Linked DNA regions of Homo sapiens: all the other regions are linked to region 2. The links come from fine-mapping of genetic effects on gene expression. A gene starts in region 2. Each other region holds a variant in brackets. All regions are shown on one strand. Distances are from middle to middle.

What was found. PIP is the estimated chance that this variant, and not a neighbour inherited with it, causes the effect. A credible set is the group of variants that fine-mapping cannot tell apart.
Region 1: its variant is the best candidate, but not a certain one, in a credible set for the expression of CPPED1 in whole blood (INTERVAL, PIP 0.52).
Region 3: its variant is the best candidate, but not a certain one, in a credible set for the expression of CPPED1 in whole blood (TOPMed, PIP 0.87).
Region 4: its variant is the best candidate, but not a certain one, in a credible set for the expression of CPPED1 in spinal cord (GTEx, PIP 0.88).

What each region holds. Positions count from the first base shown.
Region 1 is chr16:12,689,112-12,691,798 of GRCh38, forward strand. The region is part of intron 3 of CPPED1 (calcineurin like phosphoesterase domain containing 1); the gene reads right to left. Among named protein-coding and RNA genes, the nearest start is that of MIR4718, 30 kb to the right of the region's middle. The variant T/C (reference allele first, on the strand shown) is at 966.
Region 2 is chr16:12,802,642-12,805,328 of GRCh38, forward strand. It overlaps CPPED1 (calcineurin like phosphoesterase domain containing 1), which reads right to left and starts at 1,246. Exons shown (of 4, transcript NM_018340.3): 1 at 1,066-1,246. The coding sequence starts at 1,135. RefSeq lists an enhancer at 828-1,197 and a silencer at 1,278-1,327.
Region 3 is chr16:12,659,713-12,662,399 of GRCh38, forward strand. It overlaps CPPED1 (calcineurin like phosphoesterase domain containing 1), which reads right to left. Exons shown (of 4, transcript NM_018340.3): 4 at 87-2,687. Among named protein-coding and RNA genes, the nearest start is that of SNX29-AS3, 50 kb to the left of the region's middle. The variant A/G (reference allele first, on the strand shown) is at 1,634.
Region 4 is chr16:12,696,536-12,699,222 of GRCh38, forward strand. The region is part of intron 3 of CPPED1 (calcineurin like phosphoesterase domain containing 1); the gene reads right to left. Among named protein-coding and RNA genes, the nearest start is that of MIR4718, 22 kb to the right of the region's middle. The variant T/C (reference allele first, on the strand shown) is at 1,569.

The DNA.
Region 1 (2,687 bases), 110 kb before region 2:
CAATGAGCTGTGGTCTGGGTTTTTAATGACATGAGATAATGCTTTGTATGACATCATCTTATGCTTCCTAAATGCCCATATATGATCAGCTATATGAAAAGAGGGCTTTTTTTTTTTTTTTTTTTTTTTTAAAGACACAGGGTCTCACTCTGTCCTCCAGACTGGAGTTCAGTGGTGCAATCTTGGCTCATTGCAACCTCGAATTTATGGGCTCAAGAGATCCTCCCACCTCAGCCTCCCAAGTAGCTAGAACCACAGGTGCACACCACCATGCCTGGCTAATTAAAAAAGTATATTTTGTAGAGATGGGGTCTTGCTATGTTGCCCAGGCTGGTCTCAAACTCCTGGCCTCAACTGATCCTCCCACCTTGGCCTCCCAAATCACTGGGATTACACGTGAGAGCCACCACACCCAGCCAGTATTTCTTCTTAACAAGAAACTGTTCATGAATGGACTGCTTATAAACCAAGCCCACACCCCCAATCCCCCAAGCTGTGCAACAAGAGTGCACCTGTATGTGAGACCACAAACCACACTAAAGATGCAGGATTTCACAAAGCCGAAGGAAACGACACTGGGGAAGTCATCGGCAAATAAGGCTCTCACAGAGAAAACATACATGCCCACATTAGCTCCTGAGAAGCCAATCATCAGATTACTGATGGATTCAGAAACAGACTCTTATGAAGATTGATAAAATCTGAAAAGAACCCACAGTGATGCTCCTGCCAATGTCAAATGTAAAGTACAGGATGCTGTCAAAAGAATTTTTTTCAGACCATTTACTCCAAGGAAACCAAGTCGACACTTGATTACCTCTCTGTTCATCCTGAGTTGCTGCATACTGGCAGTAACAACCATTTTATCAAACACAAGTTGAAATTAACTGATTGCCATAATTTGTCTCTTTTCTCAAGACAATGTTTCAAACCAACCTTTATTTTTATTTTATTGCCATTTTCTG[T/C]AGCTACGGTCTGCATTTTAAGTGAGCTTTTTTTTTGGCAGCCATAATCTTTAGATAATGAGCCCACCTGGGCTTGAACTGGTGAGGGGCTGGCCAGAGTCTGCGGGGGTGGGTACAGATCCCTCCCTGTTTCATGAAAGACACCATCAAGAAGGCCAAGTGTGGTGGCTCATGCGTATAACCACAGCACTTTGGGAGGCCAAGGCAGGCAGACTGCTTGAGCTCAGGAGTTCTCCAGACCAACTTGGGCAACACGGTGAAACCCAGTCTTTATTGAAAATACAAAAATTAGCCAGGCGTGGTGGGGAGCACCCATAGTCCTGGCTATTTGGGAGGCTGAGGCAGGAGAATCACTTGAACCCAGGAGGCAGAGGTTGCAGTGAGCTGAGGTCATGCCACTGCACTCCAGCCTGGGCAATAGCGCAAGACTCCTTCTCAAGAAAGAAAGAAAAAAAAAAGGCCAGGTGTGGTGGCTCATGCCTGTAATCCAAGCACTTTGGGAGGCCGAGGTAGGTGGATTGCTTGAGCTCAGGAGTTCGAGACCAGCTTGGGCAAAATAGTGAAACAGTGAGATCTAGTTTCTACCAAAAAAAAAAAAAAAAAAAGACACCATCAAGAGCATCTTTGTCTGCAGAAGGCACAATTCACATACTCAAGATGAACGGATGAACGGAGAGGCTTACTATGAAAGAAAAATTCCTGCTTGTTGAGGCCAAAGGGGAATTCCACACCCCTGTATTCCACACCAAGTAGGCTCCACGGACCCTCACTTGGCAGATCCCTTTGGATATCCCAGTGCTGAGCCTCTGTGGTTGCAGCACCAGCTCCTTTCCTGAGGCAGCCCCTGTAGAGGAGCAGGTGAAGAATGGGCAGGAGGGTGAGCAGGTGGGACCCTGCCCCACACGGGTATCCCGGCTCCTCTCTACTTGCCATCAGCACCCGTGCCCACGGTGCATTCTGCTCATCAACATGCTCTGGGGCACCCAACAGCAATGTCGTTGAGAACACAGGACCCAGGGCCACTGCCCAGGCCCCAAGCAATTAGTGTCACCCACCACTTTGCAGCTGGTTGATGCTGGGGAAGCCGATTTGTCTCCCCACGCTGCAGTTTCCTTGTCTACAAAATCAGAGCAAGAGTCCCTGTGGTGTACTATTTATTAAGCAGTCATTATTACTATTTTACTAGTATAGTGTCCTGTGTGTGTTTTCTTTCTTTCTTTTTTTGAGACGTAGTCTCACTCTGTCACCCAGGCTAGTGGCGTAATCTTGGCTCACTGCAACCTCTGCCTCCTGGGTTCAAGTGATTCTCCTGCCTCAGCCTCTCAAGTAGCTAGGATTGAAGGCATGAAGTAGAAACACAATTTGACCCAGCCGTCCCATTACTGGGTATATACCCAAAGGATTATAAAACATGCTGCTATAAAGACACATGCACACATATGTTTATTGCGGCATTATTCACAATAGCAAAGACTTGGAACCAACCCAAATGTCCAACAATCATAGACTGGATTAAGAAAATGTGGCACATATACAGCATGGAATACTATGCAGCCATAAAAAATGATGAGTTCATGTCCTTTGTAGGACACGGATGAAGCTGGAACCCATCATTCTCAGCAAACTATCGCAAGGACAAAAGACCAAACACCGCATGTTCTCACTCATAGGTGGGAATTGAACAGTGAGAACACATGGACACAGGAAGGGGAACATCACACG
Region 2 (2,687 bases):
CCTACTTTAGATAAGGTAGCAGGTAAAGTCTCTGAGGAAGTGAATGAACTTTAAAATGAGGTGTGACGGTTGAGAGAGCCAGGCTCACCAACCCTGCTAAAGAAGCAGAAAACAGCAAGCGCCAAGACCCTCAGGGAAAGAACGGCCTTGGCCCTTTTAAATGCAGTTCAAACAAGGGCAACAACAAAACCTGTTGCAGAACTGGGCAAGAGAGAGAATGACAACCCTGAAGGAAGTGGACACAAGCCTGATCATATAGGGCATTTAGGGTGACTTCCCTGGGGGTATAAAGCTGGTGAGAGCCTGGGAGGCGATCTGGCTGCAGGCAGCAAAAAGCCACAGAGGGGAATCAACAAACCAGAAACAAACCTCCCTCTTTACTTAGCACCTAGCATGCGTCCAACACCGGGTTACAAAAATACTTTTGATCTGTTTACGCTTCCAACAACCCTATGAGGCAGGTATTATCAAACCCATTTTTAAGGCAAAGCAGATAATCTAAATCCAAAATCCAAGCACTTCACTACGACTCTCGAATGCCCTCCCTCTCTACTGCTCTGATGGGGCAGTGTTACCATTTCGGTGAATGACTTAAATAAACGTCATTATGGAGTACAGAATACATAACGGTGAACAACCTTAATAAAACCGACACCCTCTAACATGCACCGAACGCTTATCCAGTAACACCCACAAGTATTCCCGTTTCACAGATGTGGAAGCTGAGGCCAAGATGCTAATGCACAGCTTGGAAACCAGGTCTCGCTGCAGAGTCCAAGCTGTCATTAACTATGCTTTGCTACCCTCCTCTTACTTCCCTTCTCTGGGGGAAGTTAGGTCAAGGCCAAGGAGGCTCCTAGACCAGATCGCTCTCTCGGCCTCGCCTCTCAACTGCGCCCCTGGAATCCCTAAGAGCAGGCTTTGATGCAGCTATGGCGGCTCCCAGGCCCCGGTGCAGCCCCGGATGGTGTCCGACTGGCGGAGCGCACACCTGAACAAAAGGTTCCCCCGGCGGAAGGTTCCGCAGCCCCAGAGTCCCCTCCCCGGGTGAGGGGCGGGCAGTACCTGCGGGAAACGCGGCCAGGGTCCTGCCCCTGGCTCTGTGGAAAACACCCCCCGCCTCTGCAGCCGACATGGCGAGCGAGTTTCTGGCCTTCACTTAGAACACTGCGTGGGTGGAAGCCGCGCGACTTCACACAGAACAACCGCTGGACCTGTCCCGCTTTGGGCGACGCCCTTTGATCTCGGGGCGGGACTGGGGCGGGACGGGGAGGGGCCCGGTGGCTCGGGGCGCCACTAGTGCTGCCTGGGCGGAGCGGAGGCGCCAGCGGCCCCTCTGGGATCGACCTGCGCGCCTGGCGAGTGGAGACTGTCTAGGGCACGCGTGGGCGGGGATAAGGCTTTGGGGTCAGTCCTTCCCTAAAGGCAGAGTTACTAGATTTAACAAGTAAAAATGCAGGACTCCCGGTTAAATTGGAATTTCAGATTTTTTTTTTTAAAGAATGACTGACTTGGTATAAATATGTCCTATGCAGTATTTGGGAGCTACTTACGTTAAATTTTTTTTTCATTATCTGAAATTCCAATTGAACTGGGCGTCCTAATTTTTTTAAATTTTTCTCTTTTTGCAGGTTTGAATGGAAGCGTCCTGATTTTTTTTTATCTGACAACTCTATCATAAAGTCAGAAGGAGCCACTGGGGTGGCTTACGCCTGTAACCCCAGCTCTTTGGGAGGCCAAGGAGGGAGGATCGCTTGAGTCCAGGTGTTGGAGACCAGCCTGGGCAACACGGCGAGAGACCTTGCCAATACAAAAAAAAAAAAAAAAAAGATGAAAAGGTGGACGTCTTGGAAGACTGTCTCAGCCTGAACTTCCCAGTGGCTGCCACCATCTTTCTGTTATTATCTTTGCTTGCTATGCACCAGGCAGGGCGCTAAGCACTTTGCACGCTGCTCACTTAATCCCCACTACAGCCCTAGGAGGTGGTGCTGTTATTAGCTGCATCCGTCATTTGGGGAAACTGACGCTCAGAGAGATGAACGAACTTGCACAAGGTGACACACATCTAGAGAGGTAGTAAAGCTGCGAGTAACCAAATTAGTGTCTCTTCAACTCAAGAGCCATTGTAGTGAACTACTTAGCCAGCATTTGTCAAACGTGTTGAAAATACAAATTCCAGAATGGACCTATTGAATCCAAATCTCTATGAAAATGATCTGTGTTTTGTTGTTGTTGTTGTTGTTTTGAGACAGGGTCTCACTCTGGTTGCCTAGGCTGGAGTGCAGTGGCACAATCTCTGCAGTCTCGATCTCCTGGGCTCAGGTGATTCTCCCACCTCAGCCTCCTAAGTGGCTGGCACTATTGGCGTGCGCCACCATGCCTGGCTAATACTTTGTATTTTTAGTAGAGACGAGTTTGACTATGTTGCCCAGGCTGATCTGGAACTCCTGAGCTCAAGCAATCCACCCACCCGGGCCTCCTAGAGTGCTAGGATTACAGGCATGAGCCACAGTGCCTGGCCTGAAAATGATCTGTTTTTAACAAGCACTGCAGGGGAGCTCTTATGATCTTACAAATTTGGGAAATTCTTTTCTAAACTAGCTGCCTACATCCAAAGCACTGTTTGAGTAGCTAATATGGCCATAACTACTGTTCTCTAATCCTTGACAAGAGTCACCCATGAATCA
Region 3 (2,687 bases), 140 kb before region 2:
CTGGGACAAGGAGTGTAACCTTAGATAGGGTGGAGCAGTGTATTAGTCCACTTTCACACTGCTATAAAGAACTGCCTGAGACTGGGTAATTTACAAAGAAAAGAGATTTAATAGACTCACAGTTCCGCATGGCTGGGGAGGCCTCAGGAAACTTACAATCCTGGTGGAAGGGGAAGCAGGCATGTCTTACATGGCAACAGGAAAGAAAGAGTGTGAAGGAGCTATCAAACACAAAACCATCAGTGTCATGAGAACTCACTATCACAAGAATAGCATGGGAGAAACTGCCTCCATGATCCAATTACCTCCCACCAGGTCCGTCCCTTGACACATGGGGATTATGGGGATTACAATTCGAGATGAGATTTCAGTGGGGACACAGAGCCAAACCAATTTGGGTGGAGACACAGAGCCAAACCATATCAAGCAGGAAGGCCACTTTCAGGGGTGAGCGTTTGAGTGGATGTTGAAATGATGACAAGAAGCCAGTTTCTAGAGAGGCACAGTGGCTCACTCATTCTAAGTGTGCTGCAAAGCCCCTTTAGTGAAGAAATCTACTTCTCAAACATAATGGTCAGAATAATGAAGGGTAACATGATTATTCACATTTAATCGACTTCATTTACATAGATAAAGCCTAAAGGAAAAATCCAATCTGTATTTATGTGCATGCACTGATGTTTAAAAATCCACTGGAGGAAAAGGAAAATTTAGTCAGCAAAATCTTTTCTAGATAAATGCTAGAAATCATTATTCCAAGAAAAGAATCCTCCACTTTTACTATATGTGTGTGTGTGTGTGTGTGTGTGTGTGTGTGTGTGTACTCATTAAAAAATACATAAGAGCTCCTCCATGGCTTGAGAATATTTTATGAAGTTATAAAAATCAGTATTACCTGTCAAGTACTATGTTACATGTGCAATCAAAACTGTTGAGGTTACCTGAATAAAAAAAATCCCTGATGTCTATTACAGAAAGCTTTTAACAGAACTTGCCTTGGCAATTTACTCCTAAATCTTCTTTTTCCTCCAGCTCAATATAATATTGCTACCTAATATTGTGACTGCACAAAACCATTTTAGGTACCACTTGGGAATAAGTATTAAGAGTTCAAGTAAGGCTGGGTACAGTGGCCAACGCCTGTAATCCCAACACTTTGGGAGGCCAAGGTGGAAGGACTGCTTGGGGCCAGGAGTTCAAGACCAGCCTGGGTAACAGAGCAAGACCTTCAACTCCACAAATATAAAAATAAAAAATTAGATGTGGTGACACGAGCCTATAGTCCCAGCTAATTTGGGAGGCTGAGGTGGGAAGGTTGGTTGAGCCCAAGAGTTCAAGGCTGCAGTGAGCTGTGATCACACCACTGCACTCCAGCCTGGGTGATAGAGCAAGATTCTGTCTAAAAAAGGGTTCAAGTAAATGCAAATGATGTTTTGGCAACCTTTTCTCAAAAGATTCTGCATTGGAATACAGACTGTAATATTAAACTACTATGTGTATATTGTTTCTACAGTTGTATACACCGTAGTGTCTTTTACAGGTATATAAGGTCAATGGCCCTAGTCTAATTCAGATTTAAACTAGTGCTTGCCTTGTAACTCTGCAAGTGATCAATAATCTCTTAATACTGAAA[A/G]TCACAAAATAGGATAAAACGTTCTGTTGCTAGTCCCATAAAGCTTACTACATTTTTTCCCCATTCTCCCCAAACTTAGGAGAAACTTGACTAAAGATGTGAGATAAAATTATTTATTGTAAAAAGTAAATGATCATCTCCCCAGCCCCATTCCCAAAGTCACTTGAGCCTTTGCAATCCAATTTGAGATCACTTTAAAAAACCTTCCCCCGTAACATGTCCTTGTGTTTTTGTTTTTTCCTCCAATTAAAGTGATTAATTGGAAAGGGGAGCATTAGGTGACATTCCTTGCCTTGAGACAGCTGGTGGTTTCCTACACCCTGTGGTGGTAACTCCAGACATGGAGCAGCTAGAGCTGCGGACAGTTACTGCTGCAGACAGGGCTGTGTCCCGTGACTCATTATGGTTCAGTTCGGTTTCTAAATCTCCCCCAGTAAAAATCCTCCCCCTGGAACCATCTGCTCTTTGGACAAGCTTCTGCCCCCTGAACCTGGTGCAATCAGGGTCTGGTCTAGGCTTTGCAGAGCTGGGAGGAAATCCCTGGGCCTCCAGCTAACGCTGTCCAAGGTGCTGAATACCGTACTCAGTGTGTTGCCACTGGCTGAGCTGGTGCAACCTTTCACCTCTGAGAAACGTTTTCCAAGACAGGACAGTGTTATGGAGCATGGACTCAAGCCTTGGGCCATCTACATCCGTTCTTTCTCCACCAAGATGAGTTAGGCGACCTTGGCCACGTGACCCCCACCTTTCTGAGCCAAAGCACTTAAAACACATAATAAACATTCAAAACCATAGCACTTAGAATCAGGAAGTCCTTTTATCGTTTTTCACAGTATAAGGCACTTATTTTTTGATATCATTCTCTTTTTTTAAAGGCAAAGGAATTACAAGTGAACACACTAGTCATGGCCCATCAGAATGATAGATGCTTATCTACAAAAACATTTCCTGACTTCTTGCTGAACCTCTTGCCTCTGGGAAATACTGCTGTTTGCTTACTTAAAAAGTGGTGAGAAATTAATATGATTCTCTCTTCCCTTTTAAAAAATTAAAT
Region 4 (2,687 bases), 110 kb before region 2:
GGTTCAAGTGATTCTCGTGCCTCAGCCTCCTGAGTAGCTGGGATTACAGGCACTCACCACCACGCTCCACTAATTTTTTGTATTTTTAGTAGAGATGGGGTTTCACCATGTTGGCCAGGCTGGTCTCGAACTCCTGACCTCAGGTGATCCACCTGCCTCAGCCTGCCAAAGTGCTGGGATTACAGGTGTGAGCCGCTGCGCCTGGCCTGACTTGTCTTTTTGATTTTATATATGACTCTCCTTAAGGGATACACCAACTTGACAAGGTTGGGGTGAGTACCCTCTTTTTACAAGTGGGAAAACTAAGGCAGAGAAATGTTTAGTGGCTTATCCCAAGCAACTTAAGAAGCCAAATCCTGTCTGTTCACCTGCCATGTTATAGGACCCCCTGCCCACCGGCCCAGACGCTAATTCCCCCTGTACAAACCTCCAAGTTTTGCCTTATCTGCACAGTACTCATACTACTATTTACTGAATCATTTTCTTTATTTTTATTTTTTATTTTTTGAGTCAGAATCTTGCTCTGTTGCCCAGATTGGAGTGCAGTGGCGCAATCTCAGCTCACTGTAACCTCTGCCTCCCAGGTTCAAGCCAATGTCCTGCCTTAGCCTCCCAAGTAGCTAGGACTACAAGTGTGTGCCATCACGCTTGGCTAATTTTTGTATTTTTAGTAGAGATGGGGTTTCTCCATGTTGGCCAGGCTGGTCTCGAACTCCTGAGCTCAGGTGATAATTAAATCATTTTCTTTAAATTGATAAGCTAGTTCTATTTTTTTCTAATACATGTGAAGCTGATCACCCAATTATTAGACATCTTACATGCACCATGGACCCTCTTGTCTGCAATCCATCACATCCTGGTCTTCAGGGGAACATGTGCCTCACCCAGGCACGCCCTCCACTGAAGACCTTCAGGAGGCTTGTTCTGGGCAGACCTTTCTGTCAGTCAGGCAGTTGTTACAATGGGGTCGTCAGATGCATCCTAAACTTAGACACATACAGAATGTGGACAAGGTTCTGGGGAGAGCAAGAGCGTCACCCTGTAATGGGAACATTTCTCTAAGCCAAGAGTTGGAAAATTATCACCGGCAGGCCTACCACCTGTTTCTGGAAATAAAGTTTTATTGGAACACTGCACTGTCTGTGGCTGCTCTCTTGTTATGAAGGCAGAGTTGAGTAGTTGCTACAGAGACCATAGAGCCACAAAGCCCAAAATATTTACTATCTGACCCTTTACCGAAAAGTTCTATTGACCCCTCTAGGCGAAGCATTTCCCATACAAAAGTCAGCTTGTGGCCTGGGTGCAGTGGCTCATGCCTGTAATCTTAGCACTTTGGGAGGCCAAGGTGAGCGGATCACTTGAGGTCAGGAGTTTGCGACCAGCCTGGCCAATACAGTGAAACTATCTCTTCTAAAAATACAAAAATTAGCCAGATGTGGTGGCGTGTGCCTGTAATCCCAGCTACTTGGGAGGCTGAGTCAGGAGAATTGCTTGAACCTGGGAGGCGGAAGTTGCAGTGAGTCAAGATGGCACCACTGCACTCCAGCCTGGGTGACAGAGTGAGACTC[T/C]GACCCCAACCCCCACCAAAAAAAAGTCAGTTCATGAAAACCAACTCACAAGTGATACGGATATTACCTGCTGATAAGTAGACTTGAATCACGCTTAATTCAATTCCATTGACCACTATTCACCTATTGGGGGGCTACTATATGACAGTCTCAGCTAGGGGCTGGCCTTACAGAGGTGAATAAGGCTGGGCTTCTGTTTCCTGGAGGAATCAGGATCTAAACAGTGACTGCAATACAGCGCAAAGGATGTCAGAGCAGGATTTGATGTTTTATCTTCCTATAAAGTAAATCCTGGGAACCTGATCTTTTTGTTCTTTAAAACTTTGAATTTTTTTTATTTATTTTTGAGACACAGTCTTGCTCTGTTGCCCAGATTGGCATGCAGTGGCGTAATCTTGGCTCACCGCAACCTCCGCCTCCAGGGTTCAAGCGATTCTTCTGCCTCAGCCTCCCAAGTAGCTGGGACTACAGGTGCCTGCCACCATGCCCGGCTAATTTCTATATTTTAGTAGAGATGGAGTTTCACCATGTTGCCCAGGCTGGTCTTGAATTCCTGACTTCAAGTGATCCACCCACCTCGGCCTCCCAAAGTGCCGGGATTACAGGTGTGAGCCACTGCACCTGCCAAAACTTTGAAATCTTAAAACTATAACCATGGACTAAGATTTATCTTCTCTCTCTCTCATTTTCTAAAAAAGCATAAATACTAGAAATGAAACTCTAATTCTGTGAAATGACTCATTAACTTTTGCGGGGAAGATCAACTTATTGGAATTTTTCATAATTGCCAAATTTGCTCTGGGCTCTCTAACACACAGTTCTAATCTCTCTTCGGAGAATGGAAAAAAAGAAAAGGTATCGAGACATCAAGGGAAACATGGTCAGTTAAAGATCTAGCTTTTGTTTTTTAAGACTGAGCTTCTAAATTGGAATCAATATTAAATGGGTCATATATTAACCCTCTGCTGAAAGAGGCATAAAGGACCGAGAAAATGTCTAGGTTCAACCAAAATTTCATTATCTACTATCTGTCTTTGCTACTCCAACTAGGTATCAGGTGAATAAAGCGGAAAACCAATTTCTACATCCCTTGGATGTGATGAAATTGATTATCCTCAC